Linked DNA regions of Homo sapiens: region 2 is linked to region 1. The links come from fine-mapping of genetic effects on gene expression. A gene starts in region 1. The other region holds a variant in brackets. All regions are shown on one strand. Distances are from middle to middle. Region 1 holds the start of PYROXD1 (pyridine nucleotide-disulphide oxidoreductase domain 1). Region 2 overlaps PYROXD1 (pyridine nucleotide-disulphide oxidoreductase domain 1).

What was found. PIP is the estimated chance that this variant, and not a neighbour inherited with it, causes the effect.
Region 2: its variant is fine-mapped to the expression of PYROXD1 in whole blood (INTERVAL, PIP above 0.99).

The regions. Positions count from the first base shown.
Region 1 is chr12:21,433,715-21,442,145 of GRCh38, reverse strand. PYROXD1 (pyridine nucleotide-disulphide oxidoreductase domain 1) reads right to left here and starts at 4,491. Exons shown (of 12, transcript NM_024854.5): 1 at 4,332-4,491; 2 at 1,698-1,778. The coding sequence starts at 4,415. RefSeq lists enhancers at 4,343-4,532, 4,583-4,662.
Region 2 is chr12:21,459,755-21,467,754 of GRCh38, reverse strand. PYROXD1 (pyridine nucleotide-disulphide oxidoreductase domain 1) reads right to left here. Exons shown (of 12, transcript NM_024854.5): 8 at 6,601-6,730; 9 at 5,635-5,747; 10 at 4,893-5,015; 11 at 137-274. Among named protein-coding and RNA genes, the nearest start is that of PYROXD1, 26 kb to the right of the region's middle. The variant C/AC (reference allele first, on the strand shown) is at 3,618.

The DNA.
Region 1 (8,431 bases):
TGCCAACAGGGATCCCCTAAGCCACAACTTCCTTTGTGGGAGAAGAAAAGATTGGGAGGCTATTAGCAGCCATTGACATTGAAAACCCCAACAACCCTCACTACCACTGCAGACATCCAGAGTTGGATGCTGAGGATCCCTGCAATCTTCAACAACAATTAACTCAGCTGACGGAGCTGCACAGACTACAAAGTGGGCACCCTCACTGGTGCCAGAACTGCTACATCCCATCTAGCAAGCAGCCCTCCCCATAGGGGAAGGTCTTTCCACAGCAAAACTAGCCCATACTTCTGAAAACAGCAAGTGTGTCATCAAATGTGCAAACATCAACATAAGGCAGTAAGAAACATGATAAACCAAGAAGATATGCCACCAAAAGAACACAAATGTCAGAACTGCCTAAGAATTCAAAATAATTGTTTAAAGAAGCTGAAGGAACTTCAAGAAGTTACAAACAATTCAATTAAATCAGAAAAACAATAAGCAACCAAAACAAAAAATTTAAAAAGTTATTTAAAAACTAAAGCAGAAATTCTGACGATGAAAGATGCAATGAATGAAACAAAAAAAAATGCAACAGACTATGTCAACAAGAGAACTGATCACACAGAAGAAAACATCTGTGAATCTGAAGACAGATTATTTGAAAATATACAGTCAGAAGGGAAGAAGAAGAAAAAAGAATGAAAAAGAACATAGAAGTAGGGAATTAAAGGATGGCATCAAATGAGCAAATCTTTGAATTATAGGCGTTATAGAAGGAGACAAGAAAGACAAAGGAGTAGAACATGTATTTAAAGAAATAACAACAGAAAACTTTCCAGGCTGGGCGCGGTGGCTCACACCTGTAATCCCAGCAATTTGGGAGGCCGAGGTGGATGGATCACGAGGTCAGGAGTTCCAGACCAGCCTGGCCAATATGGTGAAACCCCGTCTCTACTAAAAAATACAAAAAATTAGCTGGGCATGGTTGCGGGCGCCTGTAGTCCTAGCTACTTGGGAGGCTGAGGCAGGAGAATGGCGTGAACCCAGGAGGCGGAGCTTGCAGTGAGCCAAGATCGTGCCACTGCACTCCAGTCTGGGCAACAGGGTGAGACTCCATCTCAAAAAAAAGCAATCAATTCACCATAATCAAGTGGGATTTATTCAGGGATGCAAAGATGGCTTAAAATATGCAAATCGGTAAATGTGATATACCACATTAACAGAACAAAGGACAAAAATCATGACCATCTCTACAGATATAGAAAAAATATTCAACAAAATTAAACGTCTTTTCATAATAAAAACCCAACAATTAGGTATGGAAGGAAAGTACCACAACAAAAAAATGGTCATATACAAGCCTATAGCTAATAATATATTGAATGGAGAAAAGCTGAAAGCTTTTCCAAGATCAAGAACAACACAAGGATGCCCACTCTCACAACTTCTATTCAACACAGTACTAAAGTCCTAGCTAGAGCAATTAAATTAGGTGACAGAAAGAAATAAAAGGCATCCAAATTGGAAAGATTTTAAATAGCTTGACTTAGCCATTCCACAATGTATACATGTATCAAAACATCATGTTGTACAGCATATAACTGTACTTGTCAATTTTTAAGAAAGAAAAAAATACACAATTACCCTAACTGCTATGCAAGTTATTGCAATTTTTTCAAATTAATATTAACAAGTTATACAAAGGTTCTTACCTGCTTGAAATTTGTAACTGCTTTAATAACAGGAGAAGCTGTTACCAAGAGAATATCTTCCGATGGAAAGTGAGTAGCCAACTTATTTTTAAAAAGAGAGAAAAAAAATTAGGACAAATTACTTTAAGTACTGGTATATATGGTTTGGGGTTGAGAATAATGCAATTTTAATAATGTAATTAATCTAGAAAATTAAAAACCCACTGTTCCTCATCTAAAGGTCTCCATTATCCTTGGTCTTGATGGGGCAATGGTGAATAATATTAAACTCTGATACTGAGAAAATAATATTTACAGTAAACACTAACAAAGAACTCCTGAACAAGAAAAGTGATATAAAGAAATATCCTTTATTTACTTCAACTATTTTTTATACCAATTTAGAGTTATAATGCAGAGGATGAGAATAAACTATCTTCCTAATTACCAGTTAAACCAACTTCTATTTATCTTAAAATAATATTTCATTTGTCTTCAATGGGATGAAATTAAAGCAAACCCTCAATATTAAACACTTAGAATATTGGTCTAACTTTCCCCAGGTGCTCTGGCACTCCTATTCTGCCTCTTCCAGTCAGTACATATTGTGGGACGATAAAGCCATTTTAATAATTGCTTCCACAAAATTTAGAGGTATAACTTGTTAATGTTTCATTATTTTCCTTTAGCTACAACCTCGGTCTTCTTCACTCTGTACCTGAAAGCATTTTCTTATCTCAAAGTCTGGTTCCTCGACACCACCACCCTCAATAATCTGGCTTCTATTCCTACTCCATCACTAAAACAGCATGTTTGAGGGATCTATGAATCCTTAAAATCCAAGGGATTATTTATTTTTTTTTTAATGGAGATGGGATCTTGCCATGTTGCCCAGTCTGGCTTCAAACTCCTGGACTCATGCAATCCTCCCACCTTGGCCTCCCAAAGTTCTAAGATTACAAGTGTGAGCTATCGTGCCCAACACCCATGCGATTCTTCTCAGTCTCATTTTATTTGAACTTTCTATATTTGACAATATCATTACTCTCTCCATCTTTCTTTCCTCTGTATATTCTGTAATTTATATCTCTGCTGTTTCCATTGCTAGATGAGGTCCTCAAAACTTCTTTATACTACTGAAATCACCTTCGAATTGGCTCTCCAGTTTCACGTATAAACCAGCTGCCTCTGCCACAAATACATTGTAACTAATCATCTTTCAAGCCTTTTCATATGATCAAGTTACTCCACTGCTCAAAAACATTTGACTACTTGTAAATTCTTGTTAAGTTCTCAGCATGCTAAGACTCCTTATGATCTATGCTTTAAGCTTTACTGCTCCCTGATGATCCATGCTTTTCCACTGGAGATGACATTCTTTTCTTGAATACTTGGTAAACTTTCACTCATTCTTTCATAATGAGATTTTAAAAATACCTTCTTTGATTAAAAAAATTTCCTCTTCCCTAATTCACTCCCTACATACTCCACAGGCACCTCTAAGATAACCGTTGATATCTCTTGCATAGACATACAATATTGTAATATTGTCTCTTCCAGCAGGCTGTGAGTCCCCAGCATGGTATATACCATGCTGTTCATAGTTGAACACTCAGCCCTTAATACGGTGCCTGCATCATATATGTTTACTTAGTGAATAAACGGAAAATACGCATCCAACGATGGAAACACTTGAGTTTCTTCCACTATTTCTTATGACTTCAGTGATTGCTCATGTTTACTTTATATCAACAAAATAATGTAGAACTTTTTGGAATACACACATGTATCTGAATATATATGGTCTGGCTATTCAGTATAATCAAGAAAGCAAGCCCTACATGCATTTAATCCTTCGCTGATTATTTTACAAAACTTTACTAGAAATAAAGTTTCTTCTATCTTGGGAGTTCGAAGTATAGAAAACTTACATATGGGATTCTTTATTAATTAGTTAAGATGCACTAAAGACTTGGCAACTATCTGGAAACTAAACTCAATCACCTACGATAATTAACAAAGGGGGCTGAGGGCCGGGTGCTGTGGCTCAGGCCTGTAATGCCAGCACTTCGGTAGGCGGAAGCGGGCAGACTGCTTGAGCCCAGGAGTTCGAGACCAGCCTGGCCAACATGGTGAAAGCCCGTCTCTACTAAAAATACAAACATTAGCGGGGCGTGGTGGCTGGCGCCTGTAATCCCAGCTACAGGCTGACGCAACAGAAGAATCGCTTGAACCCGGGAGGCAAAGCTTGCATTAAGCCAAGATCGCACCACTGCCCTCCAGTCTGGGCGACAGAGTGAGACTCCGTCTCAAAGAAAAAGAAAAAAAAATAAAAAGAAAGGGGGCTGAATTTTTTGTCTAAATACAAAGTCCTCATGTCTGCTCTGACATTACAAGGATCTGAGCACGGATCAGCCAGCTTTGGTTTCTCGGCTATAATTTGCCTCCCACTCCTCCCTGCGCCTAAGAGAAAGCTAGTGAGGTCATCTGAGGACCACCAAGCAGTTTCTAAAATCTGGGAGCAATAAGTGCGGAAAAGGGCGCAGCAAAAAAGGAACCCGGAAGAAGAAAAAGGGAGGGGGTGGGAGGAAGGCCTCCAGTGCTATCCCCTTTGGGGTCGGGGAAAGAGGCGGAACCGCCTGAGCACCGCCCTACCTGCTCCGCACAAGTGACGCCCGCGATGCCGCCGCCGACCACCACGAACTTCCCTGCCGTCGGGGGAGGGCGCGCTGCCTCCATGCTGCCGGACTCCCAGTGGTTTACTGAATATCGCGGCGGAGCAACGGGACTCTGGACTCCAGGAGAGGAAGCAGCCGCGAGGCGGTCACTTCCGGTGCCTTACCAGATAATCCGACCTACGGGTGCTCGGGAGCTCACACTACTCATCTCGAGTACCTGCTGCCGGCTGCGTTTCGGAAGCAACGAATTGTCTCGTGGTGTTCAGAGCTTTGCGTTACTATTACTACACCTGAATGTAGTTATTCCATGAAAATTTGACAAAGAGAAAACCAAAAAATTAAAAATAAAAAAGTAAAGAAGATGGGTTGCCCAAAGAAGTTTGATAAATTACATATCTAAAGATAGACCAGTGTTCTCACGGGACAAAACATTCATATAATAAATGAATTGGTGTGAAGTTCTCATTATTTGTTTCTGCGAGAAATTAGAGGCACAGATTTTATGCTCTTATGAGTAGAAGGAGCCTTCGGGAACATCCTGACCCCACTCCTGTCATTTTTGTAGATGAAGAAACTTGAGTCTTCTGAAAACCACTTGATTGCCACCGTTCACCTAACAATCCAAGATTTTTGTTTGTGGAAGCACAAAAATTCTTCATGACAAGGCAAAACAATACTACTGAATTGTTCTCTAAAAAATCATCCTTTTCATTTACAACTTTGACCTCAGCTAAAGTTTCCAGGAAGAATGTACAGTTGCTTTCCATTTTGTCAAAACAAATGAACATTTCTTAAATTTCCAGTCAATAGCAGCATGTGTGAGGGTTGAATGAAATATTCCCAGTCTCGGTTTTACTGTGAATTTTTTTCGTGGTCAATTGTTTTTAAGAAATTGCTAAATCATTTTTAACTGTTTTTACTATATTATTCACTATTCATATTATTTTACTATTTACTATTACCTTTGCTGTCTCATATAACTTTCCCTAGGAGTTGTTTTGTAATGGTAAGGTATTATCTCTCAAATGGTTCACTCTAAAACTGGTAATTACCCGAGTCCCTTTAATTCTTTAAACACTGAGAATAACCATTATATATTAACAGGAAAGCCTACCACGTATCTAATTACAGGCATTTACTGATACCTGTAAAAATCATTGTTCTTTGATTTACCAAGTTAAATGGTAAGCGGTTTAATAAACGTGTCTAATTCCTGTTACTAGTATAGCAACCAAACAAAGCATTCATTTCTAGGAGGAGGAAATACATTCCTTAAGCCCATTTAGATCTCATCTTGCTTCAGCTTATTTTCACATTATCTCACTCACACTGTGTTCCATTCAGGCCACACTACACTTCCAGATCCCAGGATATGCCATTTTCTTTCTGAGCATTTGCACATATCTTTTTCCCAACTACTTTTCCCTGGCTAACTCATCAACCTTTGGTTTCATCAAGCCATTGCTTCCCCTTTAAGATACTTTATCTAACATCCTCAAGACAGCTAGGTGTCCTCTCCGTGTGTTCTTATAGCACTTTGTCATCCTCTAAATTTAGACTTATCCCACTTTATTGTAAATTCTTACTGCCTGACCCCACCACCACCATAAACTGCTTACATAATCTCAGGGATTATTTTTGTCTCCCTTTGTATCTCCAATGTTTAGTAGGGAGTATGTATTCAACAAAAATGTGCTCAACGAAATAGGAAGTTGGTGGAGCATGAAACTCCCCTGAAGTCCTTCTAAAGATTTTTAGATTCATTGTCCAGGGTCAGGATCCTCTTGTATATTGTGACAGGGGTTTCCTCTTTATGGAAGTCGGAAGGAAGAATGGAGTGGAATTTAAGCTCCCAGGGGAAACGGAAGGAGATCATCGTCTGTGGGAGGGGAAGCAAAGTAGTAGGAGGCTCCTCAAATGTAAAGGGGTAATGACTCCACACTCTCCTTTTTTCTTCCCCTTGTGAAGGCTGGCTTTTTTGTCAAAGGTGATGTAGGGATAAGACCTAGCTGCCTGCCACACTGGCATGAATATCCAACTTTTAGAAATGTCTAAGGGTTAAAGAACTTTCAGTGCATCTCACCTTAATGTTGATTAAATTAGATACATATACTGGATGTAAAGTGGGTTAAAAGTAAGATGTAGGTAACTTGAAACATGTTATCCACAGGGAGGGCAGCAATAGGTACAGGTTAGGAGAAAGGGCAACTGCAAAGAAAACTGGGCACCTAGAAATAAGGGAGGCCCAATGCCAGGAAGCAGCAGAGAAGCAGAAAAGACAGAACTTCAGCTCCCCTTTAGCTCTGGTCAGCAAGCTTAGGAGTGACCTGGTGACTGTTTCTGAGGAGTCAAAGAAATACCAGTGTATTGCTAAATATTATGGTGTATGTTTATGGGTGGAAAAGAAAAGCAGGACTTGGCAAAGAAAGGTTCAGAGAAGAAGTGGAATTTATATTGAATCTCAAAGGCCCATAGCATTTGGATAGGTTCAGAAGAAGATGTGGCAAGTCATGTGGGAAATATCCCAAGAACCAAAGGCTTAGCAGCAGGAATGAGCATGGGAAATACAGGAGATGGTAAAAGGGAAGAAAGAAAGAAAAGTGGTTGGGGAGTTCAAGATTCATGTGGAAAAACTGAAGGAGATAAAGCTATCTTCTTCTATTTCTCTCCATAATGTTGTTACATCTGATTCCCATACCCACCTAATCTCTTGAAGGCCATCCCCAACTTTCAAACTACCATCAAAATCTAGTCTTCCATTCTTCTTCAAGTTGATATCAGAAATGCCTAGAATAGGAGTATTGAGGTTAATTTTCAACTGCAAAAATTGGGAATGAATAATGACATTTCATAGTTGGTGATTAATAGCTTTTGAGTCAGATGACCTAGGTTCAAATGTGGCACCAGCATTTCTTTGTTGTGTGACCATTCAGTGAGTTATTTACCTCATCTGAACCCTAGTTTCCTCATTGGCAAGACGGGTATAAGATCTACTTTGTAGAGTTGTTTTGATGCATGTGTGAGGCAACATATTTAAACTTCCTAGCATAGTGCGTGCCTCTTAGTAGGATTAATGGTTAAGTTGCCTGCCTGTGCCCTGTTGAATAGACTATGTTTCTCTGTCTAAAGGATTTTATCTATGATCATAACCTTAACAAGCCTATTATGCTTTTAACTCCCAAATGTCTATCTCTCATGCAATCTACTCTGAATCTTCAAGCCTGAAATTTCTGAAACATCTTGGATATCTTCTCATTTTTATCTTGGTTTTTGCCAATTCGCTGTAAGTACAGCCTGGATTCATCTTGCACTCGAAACCTCTTCTTTGTTTTGTTAGTTCATATAACTGATTTACTGAACAAGCTGGACTTTATAGGGAAGAAATTAAAGCAAACATTTTTATTTCTCAACGCTTTTCCTGTGAATGTATTTTTCTCCTCTAAATTCTTATTAATTTAGCTTATCTGATCATTCTCAGGTAATAAAAAGTCTGGTACTACCTATTATCAAAACTCCAGACACGCATCCAATTAAAGCCTCACCTAACTACAGGCAACGCAAATTGATTTCTTGTTGCTTTTTTGCTCCAGCTCTTCTCCTAACTAAGAGCTGATGTTTTCAGGGGCTTTAAGATTGGAGGGTGGGTAAGGAGTAAGGAGAGGAAAGAGCCTCACTGTTGTTCCTGTATGAGCATATATATGCAAACCTACCCCCAAAGGCTGAGAGAGCTGAGAGGCCAAAGAAAAACTGACAAATCCAGTTTCTCAGAAAGAGGTATTTAATAGGGACTTACACACAGAAATGATGATTCTGTTACAGTGCATCCCCACACCTGCCCTCCAGAAATTATGTAAGCTTTTAGGATAAAAGATGTACAGCTGATCATGTCTCAGACTTTCTTGCAAAACTCATGAACACTGGGGAGTCTAGATAAGAATCTTAATGAGAGAATTATCTAAGTTACAAGCTTTGTTTCTTTTGAAGGGTTATCTATGCTATGGGCATTGTTTAAGGACCTTGCTGCAGAACACCTTAGTATGCAGGAATCCAACATCAGTCATCATGGCCGTGGTGTCA
Region 2 (8,000 bases), 26 kb before region 1:
TAAGAAATGAAAAATGTCATTTTTTTGTAGATGATTAAAACTATGTACGTTTTTATTCAAGCAAGAAAATCACATGATTTATCATAGTCATAAGACTAACAAGCAGAGAAGGCATTAATATGCTTAACTATCTTACCTTATAGTTAAAAAATTTTGTCACATGAGCAAACAGTTCAAAGCTGAAATCCATGTCAATAGAGTCTCCTGAACTCGCTGCAGCCATGCACTTTGCTGCATACCATCCCATCTGTCTAGCCTGGGTCCACAGCCTCATCTGAAATGATGAAAAAATGTTACACAATGTCATTTTTCATGATCATTATCTGAAAAATGTTAACCTTGTAAATTCACTTAAAGGAGTTCAATGTTTGACAGTCTTTCTGTCATCTTTGCCACAGAAGCAGTCACCAATGGATAACTAATCAGACTGATTTTTGGTATTTGTTAATTCTATCTAAATTACTGCCTCTAAAATTAAAAGATGATACCAATCACACCTGTTTTAGTAGCATTTCTATTAAATATTATGAAACTATATTAAGCTATACCAGGTGAGAAAAATGTTTTAATTAACCAGTCCCTTCTTCAAAAATTTGTCATCACCATTAACAGAGATGTCAAATTATCACTGAAGAATTTGTTCTATTTTCCAGCAACCTTCATTTTTATGCACTACTTAAGGTCTGCTGTGCTGTTAACCTCAGTGGTTAGACAGACTCTTGGTGCCTCACCAAGACAACATAAATATCTCAGCAACTGATTCTGGGAAGTCATTTAAATTGTTTTGCATGACCGTATTAATTCATCTATTGTATTTTTATTTTATTTCTATGAAGTTTTGAGACTCCCTGGTATAAAAGAACACGGCCTTTGACAAAATTCAACAACCCTTCATGCTAAAAACTCTCAATAAGGTATTGATGGGACGTATCTCAAAATAATAAGATCTATGACAAACCCACAGCCAATATCATACTGAATGAACAAAAACTGGAAGCATTCCCTTTGAAAACTGGCATAAGACAGGGATGCCCTCTCTCACCACTCCTATTCAACATAGTGTTGGAAGTTCTGGCCAGGGCAATCAGGCAGGAGAAGGGAATAAAGGGCATTCAATTAGGAAAAGAGGAAGTCAAATTGTCCCTGTTTGCAGATGACATGATTGTATATCTAGAAAACCCCATCAGCTCAGCCCAAAATCTTAAGCTGATAAGCAACTTCAGCAAAGTCTCAGGATACAAAATCAATGTGCAAAAATCACAAGCATTCTTATACACCAACAACAGACAAACAGAGCCAAATCATGAGTGAATTCCCATTCACAATTGCTTCAAAGAGAATAAAATACCTAGGAATCCAACTTACAAGGGATGTGAAGGACCTCTTCAAGGAGAACTACAAACCACTGCTCAATGAAATAAAAGAGGATACAAACAAATGGAAGAACATTCCATGCTCATGGGTAGGAAGAATCAATATCGTGAAAATGGCCATACTGCCCAAGGTAATTTATAGATTCAATGCCATCCCCATCAAGCTACCAATGACTTTCTTCACAGAATTGGAAAAAACTACTTTAAAGTTCATATGGAACCAAAAAAGAGCCCGCATCGCCAAGTCAATCCTAAGCCAAAAGAACAAAGCTGGAGGCATCACGCTACCTGACTTCAAACTGTACTACAAGGCTACAGTAACCAAAACAGCATGGTACTGGTACCAAAACAGAGATATAGACCAATCGAGCAGAACAGAACCCTCAGAAATAATGCCTCATATCTACAACTATCTGATCTTTCACAAACCTGACAAAAAGAAGAAATGGGGAAGGGATTCCCTATTTAATAAATGGTGCTGGGAAAACTGGCTAGCCATATGTAGAAAGCTGAAACGGGATCCCTTCCTTACACCTTATACAAAAATTAATTCAAGATGGATTAAAGACTTACATGTTAGACCTAAAACCATAAAAACCCTAGAAGAAAACCTAGGCAATACCATTCAGGACATAGGCATGGGCAAGGACTTCATGTCTAAAACACCAAAAGCAATGGCAACAAAAGTCAAAATTAACAAATGGGATCTAATTACACTAAAGAGCTTCTGCACAGTAAAAGAAACCACCATCAGAGTGAACAGGCAACCTACAGAATGGGAGAAAATTTTTGCAACCTACTCGTCCGACAAATGGCTAATATCCAGAATCTACAATGAACTCAAACAAATTTACAAAAAAAAAACAACCCCATCAAAAAGTCGGCGAAGGATATGAACAGACACTTCTCAAAAGAAGATATTTATGCAGCCAAAAGACAAATGAAAAAATGCTCATCATCACTGGCCATCAGAGAAATGCAAATCAAAACCACAGTGAGATACCATCTCACACCAGTTAGAATGGCAATCATTAAAAAGTCAGGAAACAACATGTGCTGGAGAGGATGTGGAGAAATAGGAACACTTTTACACTGTTGGTGGGACTGTAAACTAGTTCAACCATTGTGGAAGTTGGTGTGGCGATTCCTCAGGGATCTAGAACTAGAAATACCATTTGACTCAGCCATCCCAGTACTGCGTATATACCCAAAGGATTATAAATCATGCTGCTATAAAGACACATGCACACGTATGTTTATAGCGGCACTATTCACAATAGCAAAGACTTGGAACCAACCCAAATGTCCAACAATGATAGACTGGATTAAGAAAATGTGGCACATATACACCATGGAATACTATGCAGCCATAAAAAATGATGAGTTCATGTCCTTTGTAGGGACATGGATGAAGCTGGAAACCATTATTCTCAGCAAACTATTGCAAGGACAAAAAACCAAACACCACATGTTCTCACTCATAGGTGGGAACTGAACAATGAGAACACATGGACACAGGAAGGGGAACATCACACACCGGGGACTCTTGTGGGGTGGGGGTGCAGCACACCAACATGGCACATGTATACATATGTAACAAACTTGCACGTTGTGTACATGTATCCTAAAACTTAAATATAATAATAAAAAAAAAAAACACTGACCTTGGGAGTCACAGTGGATTTTAATATCAACAGATCTACATATATATTTAACTTTTCTGGGCCTCGGTTCATTTACCTGAAACGTAAACATAACACTACCTACTCTGTAACTATTGAGAGAATTAAACAGGTTAGCGTATAATAAGCACTTGGTTTCCTTCTACCTCCCTGTATGTGCATATGTACTTAATGCTGTCTTTTGTTTGCAGAAATAATATCATAATCATAGACATGAGTTTTAAGCATTTCTAGCAGAAGTGATAGATTTTTTTTTTTCAATCTCCTCTGTAAACAAGGTATTATAGATTTGATGAAGTGAAAGGCAGTTTATGGCTGGGGGTCAGAATAAACTGAGCACAGTAACAACTAGAGAACAGCTAATACAAGTGGCCGGAAAATTTGCATCTTGAACTGCATAAATTAGTATCCTTATTGCTTGTGTAAGCCAAGAAATGGGGCCTATAAGGTGCACTCAAAACAAGGCCATCTGTTTATTTTCGGATTTTTTCCCCTCTTTCAGATTATAACACATTAAGATATAATTTACCCTAGAGAATTAAAAATGTTAAAAAAAAAAAAA[C/AC]CCATAAACTCCAACTCTAAGAATTTGTGATAGTCTTGCCACAGAAATGACATAGAATGAGGCAGGTTAGAAACAAAAAGGCTGGAACCATTCTTACTGATGTCTCTACTGTCTGTAAGAACACAAAATGATGGTGCTGCCTCTTGAAATACTTTTAGCTCTTCTCCTACTTCACACTGCATAATCTGAATGAATAATGTCCCTAACTGTGGAGCTGGTCTTTAACAAAGATAAATGTTGCCTGGTTCCTTTATTTCAAACATCTACCTAGGTCTCTACCCCTCTGCACACCTCTGGTCACTGTCTTTATCTTCCTCTAGTATTTTTGTTCCACCGTTAGGAGGAGGTAGGTAAAGCTGTGAGGGTAGGAAAAAGTCTAGATCCAGTTGGGACTTGTTAAGGCTCAGGAAAGGTGTTTACTACAGGAATTTTTTTTTTTTTTTTTGAGACAGAGTTTTGCTCTTGTTGCCCAGGCTGGGGTGCAGTGGTGCGATCTCAGCTCACTGCAACCTCCGCCTCCCAGGTTCAAGGGATTCTTGTGCCTCAGCCTCCTGAATAGCTGGGATTACAGACGCACACCATCATGCTCAGCTAATTTTTTGTATTTTTAGTAAAGACGGGGTTTCATCATGTTGTTCAGGCTGGTCTCAAACTCCTAACTTCAGATGATACACCTGCCTCTCACCCTCCCAAAGTGCTGGGATTACAGGCGTGAGCCACTGCGCCCAGAACATTTTTTAGTAATGATTACCACAGGGACAGAATAGGATCATAAAGGAATAGAATGCTTTTCTATATAATTTACAATCTTAGTAGTTTTTTTAATCTAAAGTTGTGCTGTCCAACATCGTAGCCACATATATTTAAAGTTAATGAGAAGTAAGTAAAAATAATTCAGTTCCTCAGTCACATTAACCACATTTCAAGTGCTCATGTGACATACTGCTGGCTACCTGACTAGATGGTGAGGAATTAAACATTTCCATCATCACAGAAAGTTCTCCTGGACAGTGCTGATAAGCAGGTAAGAATGAAAAACAAAGTAATAGCCCATAATTTCTTTTAAAGTAAAAGATGTCTCAGTCTACCATTATAATGATAACTTACCAAACAGGGAAATATTCTAGTTTTTTTTTTAAATATATATAACAACTGTGCTAGCTTCCTACTTAAGCAGAAAAGTTGGAAAACCAGAAGTTGGATTTGTTGGTAACAACCGCTTTATTTTCAGACAGAATCTCTGATGAAAACATATAATTATATATGCTAGCTTACCTGCTGCCAGACTGGGCTCAGCTGCCAGGATGTAGTACAGATGTCACCGGCAGCATAGATATCAGGAAGGGATGTGTGCATATGATCATCCACTTTCAGGCCACCATCTTCTCCTAGATCAAACTAAACAACATTCCTCATAAGCGTTAAGTGTTAAGAAAAATGAAACGACTTTTTCCATTTTAAAGTAAAAGAACAAATTAAATTGTTACACTTTGCATGCTCATCTTTAATGAGAAAATGAAAAATATCAGCAAAGTTTAGACACCTGAGCTGAATTTCCATGGATCAAATTCCAACTAAGACTGATCCATAAAACTGTCAGAATTTCAACATGAAAAGTATCCAATAACCATGTGACTACCTTATCCATAACTACAAGAATATTCTTTTTTTTTTTTTGTAAGCTTCAAGTGCTGAAAAGCAAAAAATACAAGATGGTTTCTCTAAAAGAATCATTTTTGAGAAGTCACGGGAGGTGTCAGTCTCTTACCAACATTTAGATAAATAAATTGTACATTATAAACCATTACTGATGACGCTTATGCAAGGATATAACTATGTAAGGATTTTAAGCAGTAAAAAATACTGTAAATCAAGACAATGTTTTAACCAAACTGTTTCCAACCATGTTAAGTTACAGTTGTACACTAAAATAATAATTATTCATGTTTGAGAATTAGAGATCTTCACAAAAATACTTCAAATATATTCACAGCTGGACAAAAAAATTTCACCTTACACTGTTACCATGGAGAAAAGGTTCTACATTTGGTGTAACTCCTGTAGCACTGACAATGAAATCGCAGCCATATATCTTTTCATTGGTCAATTCCACATAGACAGGCCACATCTCTTTAAGAAAAAAAAACCAAAAAAACAGACTTTATTTGTAAATGGAACCATCACCACAGCAGTGTATGTGACTACAATGACTAGAAACAAAGAAAGAAAAAGAAAGGCAAGAGATAACTTTGTAACACACTCCTTAGCAATTATTATGAGGCATATTTGCTAAAGCAATTTTAATGCAATTAGCATCATCTCGTTTGGGTATAATTTTAAAACCATGGCATTTTAAATGTTTTTCCTTCAAATTTGGACACATAAATTTTGACAAAGTACATTTAAATTATTTCTAAATTATTTCTCTAAAAATCTTTTGTAATACTTTACACTCCACTTAAGTGTTTAGTTCAACTAGGTGTCTTCCCTCACTACTCATATTCAAATTCCCCTTTCCTATGGAAAAATTCAAAGAATTCAGAACAGTAGAATATTTCATATGCTAGTTAACTGAGTGTATTTCTTCAAATCATGGCAATTCTCAGAGGAGTTGTGGAACTGGAGTTAGGAGAGCTGCATCTTAGTCCCAAAAATATACATTTTCAATCTGATTTGGGTGAAATCATGTCACCTTTAAGAGCTCTAGGTTTTTGTCTTATTTTGATTTATAATATATTCTGATTGTTGGTCAAAACACTCAGCTCTATGTAAGATGTAATGCCCTATACGATTTAATTTACTAGAAAACAACAGACAGTGAAATGAAGTGAGTTAATGTTATTAAATTATGGTTTTATTTTTACTTTTCATGTTTAAATTTTATATGGAAATACGAAGTTATTTTTAATAGAACACAGCAGGATTAAATTGTTTTCCTTTTAATTAAGTGGTTATATATATTTTTTCTTATTTCATTACTTGCCTGTATCAGCTGTAACTGACTTATGGTCTCTTGGAAAAGTGAAGGACTTTTTCTTCAAAATTCTAAACTCATCCTGAAGGTAGATTTTCTTTACTTCACACATAGTTTCAAGGTGAATCTTATGAGAAAACTAAAATTAAGAAAATACTGGTTAGCATAATACTTACAGAAAGAATAACCCGGGTTACTAATGATGAAGAAAAAACGTATACTTGTAGAAATGTATAGAAAACATAATTCTTATAATATAAATGAAACCACATTGGGTGCCCTAAAATAAGTCTCTCTATGCACATGAAAGGAGTGAACAAAAATTCATTCAGTAACTTAAGAGATCTGGTAGCTGCATTAGCAGATAGCATCGAGGGAATGCTTTTTAGCCTAGGCCTCATTGATAATTACAAATGCATTTTTTAAAAATTACAGTAGTTGTTGGGCACAGTGGCTCACGCCTGTAATCCCAGCACTCTGGGAGGCCGAGGCGCAGGTGGATCACCTGAGGTCAGGAGTTCAAGACTAGCCTGGCCTATATGGTGAAACCCTGTCTCTACTAAAATTAAAAAATTAGCCAGGCCTGGTGGTGTGCGCCTGTAGTCCCAGCTACTCGGGAGGCTGAGGCAGGAGACTCGCTTGAACCCGGGAGGCAGAGGTTGCAGCGAGCCAAGATCATACCACAGCACTCCAGCTTGGGTGACAGAGCGAGACTCTGTCTCAAAAAAAATAAATAAATAAAATAAATAAATAAATAAATAAATAAAAATTTAAAAAATGACAACAGTTATGGACTATAAAATTTTCTTCAGGTCAGTTCTGACTTACTGTCGTATCCCTGAACATTAATAAAGTCCCACGTAGGTAGTAAATACTCAATAAATGCTTATTGAATTAAACTGTTGAAGTTCTCAGGTTAAAAATATAATATTAGGATCTGAAGGTGCAAGAAGAAGGGACTTTGTGTAATTTCCATCACAAAAATTAGATACACCGTGCAGCCAGCTCCCCTCCTACCTACTGAAAGCCAAAAACCAATGCTCTAAAGAAATCACACAAAGTAACGAAGGACTGCATGCATGCTTCTTACAGCATTTAGATTTCACAGCCCTTTAACAACTATTAAAAAATCAAAATATCTAACAAAATGAGGAAAAGCAAATCATCTCCTTATCCAATTAGGGTATTAAGTGTGTATTTCCAATCCATCTAATAACTTTTGTAAGTTTACTGCATGCATCTGAAGTGACCTTTGAGAAAAGATTAATTTAAAATAGGACAGGAGTATTCACTGTAGTCTGGGTATAGAAAGCTCTATCCCTGATCTGAGGATATAGGAAAAAACAAACTCAGTTTCTCCTACTATAGTCTCACAACACAGAATACTTCTGTGACCAAATGTGTGTGGG